Homo sapiens: one gene and its partner. The protein of the gene in region 2 interacts with the protein of the main gene of each other region in a pairwise test. Each region holds a gene or a part of one and is shown on either strand. Other genes may lie near its edges.

Region 1 (4,023 bases), on a different chromosome or scaffold from region 2:
TGTGCCGGATGCACACAGGAATGGGAGGGCGGAGGAAGGCAAGAATCTACAAAATCGGAAGCACGTTGCTCTCTCCGTGTTTTGGGACTCAAGCAAACCTATAATGTGCATCCCCTTCGAGCAGGTCATAGAAAGGAGCCGGGGCAACAACCACTCAACTGACTCCAATTACACAGGAAAGGGACCCAGAGTCTCAGGCCCAGGCTTCTCAGGACTGCAAAGTGGCACTGGAGACAGGGACATTGACCTGCCACTTCTAAATATTTCAGTGGTAGTGTTATATCCGTTTGACTTTACCAAGAATATACATTACTTTTACACACACACACACAAACACAGATCTGCAAATCTGCATTCCTATTCCAGATATTCAGATGCATTGTAAAAATATATGCAAAGACAATATATATTTTTCTCTTGGTAATTGTGGAACACTGAATGTCAAACAGCATGTACTAGGTGGGAAGGACTGGGAGAATTATTCACAAGGATCAAATCTTACTTTGTGTATTTAACTGTAGATTAATTAATTGCTTTTATTTTAGTATTTGTTTTTTGAGACAGAGTCTTGCTCTGTCACCCAGGCTGGAGTGCAGTGGCGCGATCTCAGCTCACTGCAATCTCCGCCTCCTGTGTTCAAGTGATTCTCCTGCCTCAGCCTCCCGAGTAGCTGGGACTACAGGCACGCACCACTATGCCTGGCTAATTTTTTTTTTTTCTAGTAGAGATGGGGTATCACCAGGTTGGCCAGGCTGGTCTCGAACTCCTGACCTCAAGTGATCCACCTGCCTTGGCCTCCCAAAGTGCTGGGATTACAGGCGTGAGCCACTGTGCCTGGCCTAACTATAGATTAATTTAGAACCACTTATAGAATATGACCTGCAACTGTATCTAAGAGAAATACGATGCATAAAAAGTTTTAATATAAAAATAGCGTTTGACGTCTTATACATATCATAACAAATATATCTTGTCTTGTTGAACCTTCAGTTTTTACTTACTTTGGTAATGTTTAATCATGTCGCTGATACAGGGAAAAGTGATTCGTGGAGAGATGTAATAGCCCCCATTATCCAGACTTCTAATTTTGTAGTGCTTAATAACATCACCATGCACAGGGTCAAAGTCTCTGACAGACAGAGAGAAGCTTCCTATGGGGGGAAAAGTGTAAGTAAATGTTTATATCTCACAAATAAGATCTGCATTATACAACAACTGCAGTACACATTTTGTGATACAAATATGCAAAATACATATATTTATGAAATTTGTATAAAATGCATAATTTTAAAAGTCCTATAAAAATTCTACTTGACAAATGAAGCTGGCATTTTGTTTGCTGTGTAGCTTGCCAACATACCATTTTCTTTCTTCATGATAATTTTTTTAAAATTATTATTTAGCTACATTTAAATTTTTTTAAGTTACTTTGATTTTCTTTTTTTTTTTTTTGAAATAGGTTGTTGCTCTGTCACCCAGGCTAGAGTAGAGTGGCACAATCATAGCTAACTGCAGCCTCCACCTCTTGGGCTCAAACGATCTTTCTACCCCAACCTCTCAAGTAGCTGAGACTACGATCATGCACCACCACAGCTGGCTAATTTTTTAATTTCTTATAGAAACAGGCTCTTGCTATGTTGCCCAGGCTGGTATCAAACTGCTGGGTTCAAGTGATTCTCAGTCTCGGCCTCCCAAAGCATTGGGATTACAGGCCTGAGCCACCACGCCCAGCCTAATTTTCTTTGTCTTAAAACTTCAGGATTTATTCAAATAATAATGCAAAAGGCTCAGCAAACAAAGCCTGGTAAGAACTGGCCACAATCATGTGTGCTTTCTACAGTACTTTTCTTTTCTTTTCTCTTTTTTTTTTGAGACAGTGCCTCACTCTGTCACTCAGGCTAGTTAGAGTGCAGTGGCGTGATCACGGCTCACTGCAGCCTCCCTTCCCTGGGTTCAGGTGATCTTCCTACCTCAGCCTCCAGAGTAGCTGGGACTATAGGCATGTGCTGCCAGGCCTGGCTAAGTTTTGTATTTCTTGTAGAGATGGGGTCTTGCTGTGTTGCCCAGGCTGGTCTCTAACTGCTGGACTCAAGTGATCCTCTCGCCTCAGCCTCCCAAAGTGTTAGGATTACAGGTGTGAGCCACCACACTCAACTATATTACTTTTAGTAGCACAACTAATCACTGAGGTTTGTTATTTGTTATCAAACCATAAAACTTTTACTACCAGAGCATACTATATGCCCTTTTTTCCCCTTGAGTAGCTCTAGAATAGTTTCTAAAAATAATTTCCTAAATAGTGTTTTAAAAGAGGCTTTGAACAATTTCCTACCTTTTAATGTTTCACTTTCTCTAATAAGGAAAGCTCCAGCGCTATTTCCTGGTGCCAAAAGCTGCCTTTCTGCGTCCTTCCTGGTTATATCCTTGAAAAACCACCTGTGAAGACATTTCAACATTTCCTGCATATTATGTTCCACGGCAAGAAAAAGGTGAAGAATATTAACAAGAAATCCAATGTGGCAAATAAAGCCACCAAGATGACAACACATGAGGACTCACTCTTCTGTTTCTAAGGTGTTGAGTTTGGCCACATAGTTGCTGGGGATGAAGCCTTCTTTTTTTGTTAAAAGGGACTTTGCTTTCCACCATTCTCCATGCCTAGAATAGAAATACACATCAAAAAGAAGCTAAAAGATTACATACTCCATGCATGTATCAAAATATCACAGATATCCCATAAATATGTATTTATGTACAGATATTACATATCAATTAAAAAATTAAAAATAAAGAAAACATAGACTTACCACAGGACCCAGCAACTATACTCCTTGACATATACCCAAGAAAGATGAAACCATAATGTCCACACAAAAACTTGTACATGAATGTTCAAAGCATCCTTATTTGTAAAAGCAAAAAGTAGAAACAACCAAAATGCCTATCAACTGATGAATGGACAAAATCTGGAATATCCATCCAGTGGAGTATTACTCAGCAGTGAAAGGAATGGAGTGCTGAGAGATGCTACAACAGGGATGAACTTTGAAAACATTATGCTAAATAAAAGAAGGCAGTCAAAAAGGACCACATATTGTATGATTCCATTTATGTGAAATATCCAGAATAGGTCAGTCTTCAGAGATAAAAAGTAGATTCGTGGTTTCCTAGGGCTGCAGAGAATGGGAGAGTTGAGGTGACAGCTAAGGGGTGCAGGGTTTCCTTTTGGGGTATTTAAAATGTTCTAAAATGGATTGTGGTGATGATTGCACAATTCTGTGACTATACTAAAAAAATCACTGAATTGTACACTTTAAGTAGATGGATTGTATGGTATTGTGAATTCTCAATAAAGCTATTAAAAAGAGAGAGAGAGAGACAAAGAAAAGAAGCCAGGAGTGAGGGTTTTGAATGTTCACAACACAAAGAAAGAATAAATGTTCCAGATGATGGATATGCTAATTACGCTGACTTGATCCGTACACACTGCATACATGTATCAAAATATCGCTCTGTATCCCATGACTGCATATAATTATTCCATGTCAACTAAAAATAAAAGGAAAAAAGTGTTTATATCCAAGACTCAACAGCTACAATAGCAATTGTCTCAAGATGTTTGTTTAGGATGGTGAAGGCGGGTGGAGAACATCTCTGGAACCCCAGAATCCAGTGGGAAAATTCACTCTCCGTGATGGAATTAAAATATGTTTAGAGACAGAAGCAAAGGAAAACAGCCTTACAACTAAAGCACGCATCACTGCGATCAGGGGTGCACAAAGAAGAGTTGGTACAAATGGCTCCCATCTCACAGAAACAAAAGGTTTGTAACTTGCCCCAGGATAGCTAAGAAATGCTTTCAAATCCTTATAGAAATGAGAGTCAAGGGAATACTGGTCCACAGTTCATGCATTATAAACTCCTTTGTTCAAACATCTAGTTATCATAGAGATGGACACTATGAAAAGAAGAAAACCATAAGACAATTCCAAGCAAGTGAGCTTCAGCACCATGCTCGAGTCC
Region 2 (3,986 bases):
TTAGAAGAGCATGGAGATCCAGGTATGCCATGGAATAGGCCAATGATGCAGCAAGAGAATTGAAGGTTAGACTACAGGCAGGACTTCCTAGAGATCAGGTTTATTCCACTGGCTGTGCACTCCCATTCCAGGCCCACTGTTTATCCCCCATCTTCCCTGCCCTCTCAGCATCTGCCTTCATACCTGTCCCTGCACTTTCCTAAGCCTGAGATGATGGGAAATTTCCTACTTTTCCCAGATCCTCCCACCTCCCTGCCATCATAACCCCCATCTCCCCCACTGTGTCTGGATATCATTCCCTAGGGTCAGAGTTGGGAGAGGAGTGGCACAACCAGATGCTTAGGGCCTCTCTCTGACCTTTCAGAGGGAGGAGGTTCTTGATGGGGCCAGATTAGAGGTGCGGAGACCAGCTCCAGGCATTGGGGTGCTTGGGAGGACTGTTCTGGGGCTGGAGTGGGGACCATTGGGCAGGAGCAGCCAGTGCCCACCGGGTGCTGGGAAGACTGTTTGCCATGCATCTGAGCTGTGCCAGGGCCTGGGCCTGGCCCCCTTCTGGTGCCCTCCCTCCCTTCTCTCTGGGCTGGAGCTGGAGCTGCTCACAGACCTGGCTCCCATCTCTCTGACGGGCAGCCCAGAGACCCATATAGTTGGAGTCATTTTGGGGCCAACACCCTGGACCACCCTTTCACCTCTGTCTGACAGTGGGAGAGTGAGGGAAGAGGGCCTAAGGCCAATGAGGACCTAACTGCTCTGGAACATGGAGGGCAACCTACCCTTGACCCCAAAAATGGGAGTCACTGACCAGTGAGGCCAAGAGGGTAGCCCCGTGCAGTTCTGAGAGAGCTCTGTCTCTCCAGTCTCGGGCCTCAGCCTCCCAATTGCAGCTAGGAGCCCTGAGGAAACTCAGACTTCCCCACATCCGGTACCAGCCTCAGAACCCAGGGGTCCAGGGTTCTGTGGCCTTCTCTATCCCACACACCACTCATCTCCACTTCCTCTTCTCTTCCTCCAGAGCAGGCCACACCTCTCCAACTCTAACCCTGAGAGCTCAGCAGTCATGCGGTCCGTTCCCTTGACGCCACAACATCCCCCTCTCTGTTTCAGCTCCAGCGTCTGTATCTCTGCCCTTGTTTTGAATTTCTTGAGCTGTTCAGGAAACTTTCCTCTTGTCACATCATTTCTGTCTGACCCGGGATGTCCATCTCCCTCACAGTCTTCATAGACCCAACCCAGAGAGTTAAGACCAGGTCTCTCTCTCTCTCTCTCTCTCTCTCTCTCTCTGTGTGTGTGTGTGTGTGTGTGTGTGTAGGCATGCACGTGTGTACACACATCTAACAACACCCACCACCTCCATGCTGAATGCCCATCAGCCGGCAGCCAAGGTCTGTCCCATAGGAACTGAGCTCCAGCACTCAGCAGGGTCAGCAGGGAGGCACAAGAAGCCAGAGCTTTGGCTATAGCAGGAGGGAAGCTCTCTGCTACCCCCTTAACGGCTTCATGAGGAGCAACATGAGCCTACACAATATAAGCAGGGCCTTAGGGCCTGTAGAAGTAATTGCAATCATCATATAAATAGTCCTTTTTATTGGAAGCAAAACTAATAATACTATTAGCAATGACACCAGCCGAGCAGTTGCAGATCCCTCTCGTATAGAATCTGAAATGTGGATGATGCTGTTATAAATAGCAAAGTTAGCCATAGCAACATAGGCACTGGTAATACTGTGGGTGGGTCTAAGGGTAACACTGTTCCCTGATCTTACTGTCATCATCTGCAATCTAAGTAATGCAGATAATAATGGTGCCCCTTGGACTTGACGCCAATCTCTTGGTCCTATTAGAACCATGTAGGCAGAGCTATTCCAATAGGTGGGGGAATACCTGACAGGATATGGAAATACCTGGGAGAGGGAATTCCCAGGCCCCTGGCAGTGCTAGGAAGGAATGCAATAGTGGTAACCGAATTCCAGCTAATAGTTACTGATGTCTACCTGAGCCAGTTCTCCTAAATGCTTCCTGTGGATAACCTCAACTGTGAGAAAAAGATTGTTTATGTTTTGCTCATTACACCGATGAGGAACCCGAGGTTCAGAGAAGTCAACTAACTACCCCAAGGTCACAGAGCAAGGAGCCGAGTTGGGATTCCAGCCGAAATGGGCACTCCGACCACCCCCTAGAGCGGCTCTGATCGGCTGTCCTGCCGGACTACAGTAAGGTGTCCCCAGAAGGGTTGCTGGCCGCTGCTCCTGGAGCTGCCTGTGCGTGGGGGCACGGAGGCAAGGACTGATCCGGAACGCTACCGCCCTGCCTGGGACAAGGTCGGAAATCTCGGCGGCCGCGCTGGGACAGGAGCGCGCAGCAGGGAAGATGCGAGGACCCGAGGGGTTGCTGATCAGACTGCGAGCAGCAGGGGGGCTGCCACTGGCAGAGCTGGAAGCATGTAGATCAGAGATGGCAGCAGCAGCTGCAGGCGCTCGGGGCTGTCCAGCAGCCTACCCCGCTGCGGTGTCAGGAGTCGACGAGTTGGGTGCCCCAGAGCCTCGAGGCAAGGGCTGACAGGCGGGGGGCGCAGACCAGGCAGGCACTCCCTTCTCCCTGTCCCCGACCCCACGGCGGGCGGCGGGGCTGCGGAGGCACTCACCTACCCAGGGCTGGGGTTGGGTCGCGGCACTGCGAAGTTTGTCGCCTCCTCCGGGGGTCTCCTCCGGGTGCACGGCTCAGTCCTGCAGCTGCAGCTGAGACTGCGGCGGAGACTGCGCGAGCGTGAGGAGAGGCTGGGGCCGCAGGACATTCGGAAGAGGGCGCCGGCCCTCCCGGCGCAGCACAAAACCCCCTTTCTTCCCCCCGCCCCTGCCCCGCCCTCCCCGGGGCCGCCCCCGCCCCCTGGTCGGGAGCGCGGGGCTCTCGGGACGGTCACGGGACCCGCTGCCTTCTCTGCTTCGGCTCCGGCAGCAGCGGCGAGAGCAAGGACGAGCGAAGTAGGACATCGTTCAGCGGATGAGAAGCCGAGGGCTTGGAGTAGGGAGGAGGGGCAGGAGGGGCGGGGAGGGAGCGTTCGCCCAGCGTTCGCTGAGCTAAAGGATGACGATGTTGCAGCTGGAGGGGTGGAAGTTGGACAACTGGAGAGTCTTCTCGTTGTTCAAAGAAGAAGGAGGAGGGAGTCAATTAGACTGTAAGAAGTGGATGAAGGGAGAATGGGGGCTTTGCTCCTGAAAAGAGACACCCTTTCTAATAAAAAAAATGGAAAACTCTTTTCTGGAGGCAGAATGGGGTGCAAAGGACCGTAGCTACCTCCCTGGAGGCAGCTATGATTGGGCATTGGCTCCTGTGGTGCTCCCACTCCCTGCACAGAGGAGGAGCTGACTTTGCAGCTGGAAGGATGGAGGTTAGACAGCAGAATCATGGGTTAAGCAAAGCAATTCAGGAAATCTCTAGACCTGGGGTGGGGGTGGGGTGAGGGTGGCCCTGTGAAGGGACATTACCAGTCATGCAAACCAATGTGCAAAATGCAGGCGTTGCTGGGAGCCCAGAAGGCCTACTGGCCAGGGCTGTCGATGCTGAATGTGCAGCCTGATGCCAGGGGGTGGGCCTTGAGTGCTGCCCAGCCAGGAACTCCTCAGCGCCCAGAATACCAATGACCCTCCTTTCCCCCAGCTCCAGGGCCTCTGCTTCCCTCTCCTTTCCCAGGCTCTCTTTGCTTTTCCCTCCTCCCTCCTGGGACTGTAGGCAAAGCCCCTGGCACGGACAGTGGGCAGGACAGCCAGATGCCTAGATTCCCTCCCCTGGATACCAATATTGGCACCAAGGATAGCTTTGGAGGGCTTTGATCCTCATAATCTCCACAGCATCTTCAAAATACCCCAAGTAAAGTAAGGTGCATTCAATGCAAATGCAACCTCAAGGCAGATCCCCAGCCTTCCATCTAGACTGCACCCTAGGTCCCTCTTGGGAACTCTGGACTGCTCCCCACTGAATGTGCCAACGCC

What was found.
Region 1: the proteins of BCAN (region 2) and LYN interact in binary tests that used the Homo sapiens proteins (3 or more experiments, as listed by UniProt).

Annotation. Positions count from the first base shown.
Region 1 is NC_000008.11:55,949,094-55,953,116, reverse strand, and holds part of LYN (tyrosine-protein kinase Lyn), read right to left. Parts: intron 2,659-4,023; coding exon 2,560-2,658; intron 2,437-2,559; coding exon 2,333-2,436; intron 1,152-2,332; coding exon 1,002-1,151; intron 1-1,001. UniProt on the Homo sapiens protein: Non-receptor tyrosine-protein kinase that transmits signals from cell surface receptors and plays an important role in the regulation of innate and adaptive immune responses, hematopoiesis, responses to growth factors and cytokines, integrin signaling, but also responses to DNA damage and genotoxic agents.
Region 2 is NC_000001.11:156,640,931-156,644,916, reverse strand, and holds the start of BCAN (brevican core protein isoform 1 precursor), read right to left. Parts: upstream 2,801-3,986; 5' UTR 2,642-2,800; intron 2,535-2,641; exon of another isoform or gene 1-2,534. UniProt on the Homo sapiens protein: May play a role in the terminally differentiating and the adult nervous system during postnatal development. Could stabilize interactions between hyaluronan (HA) and brain proteoglycans.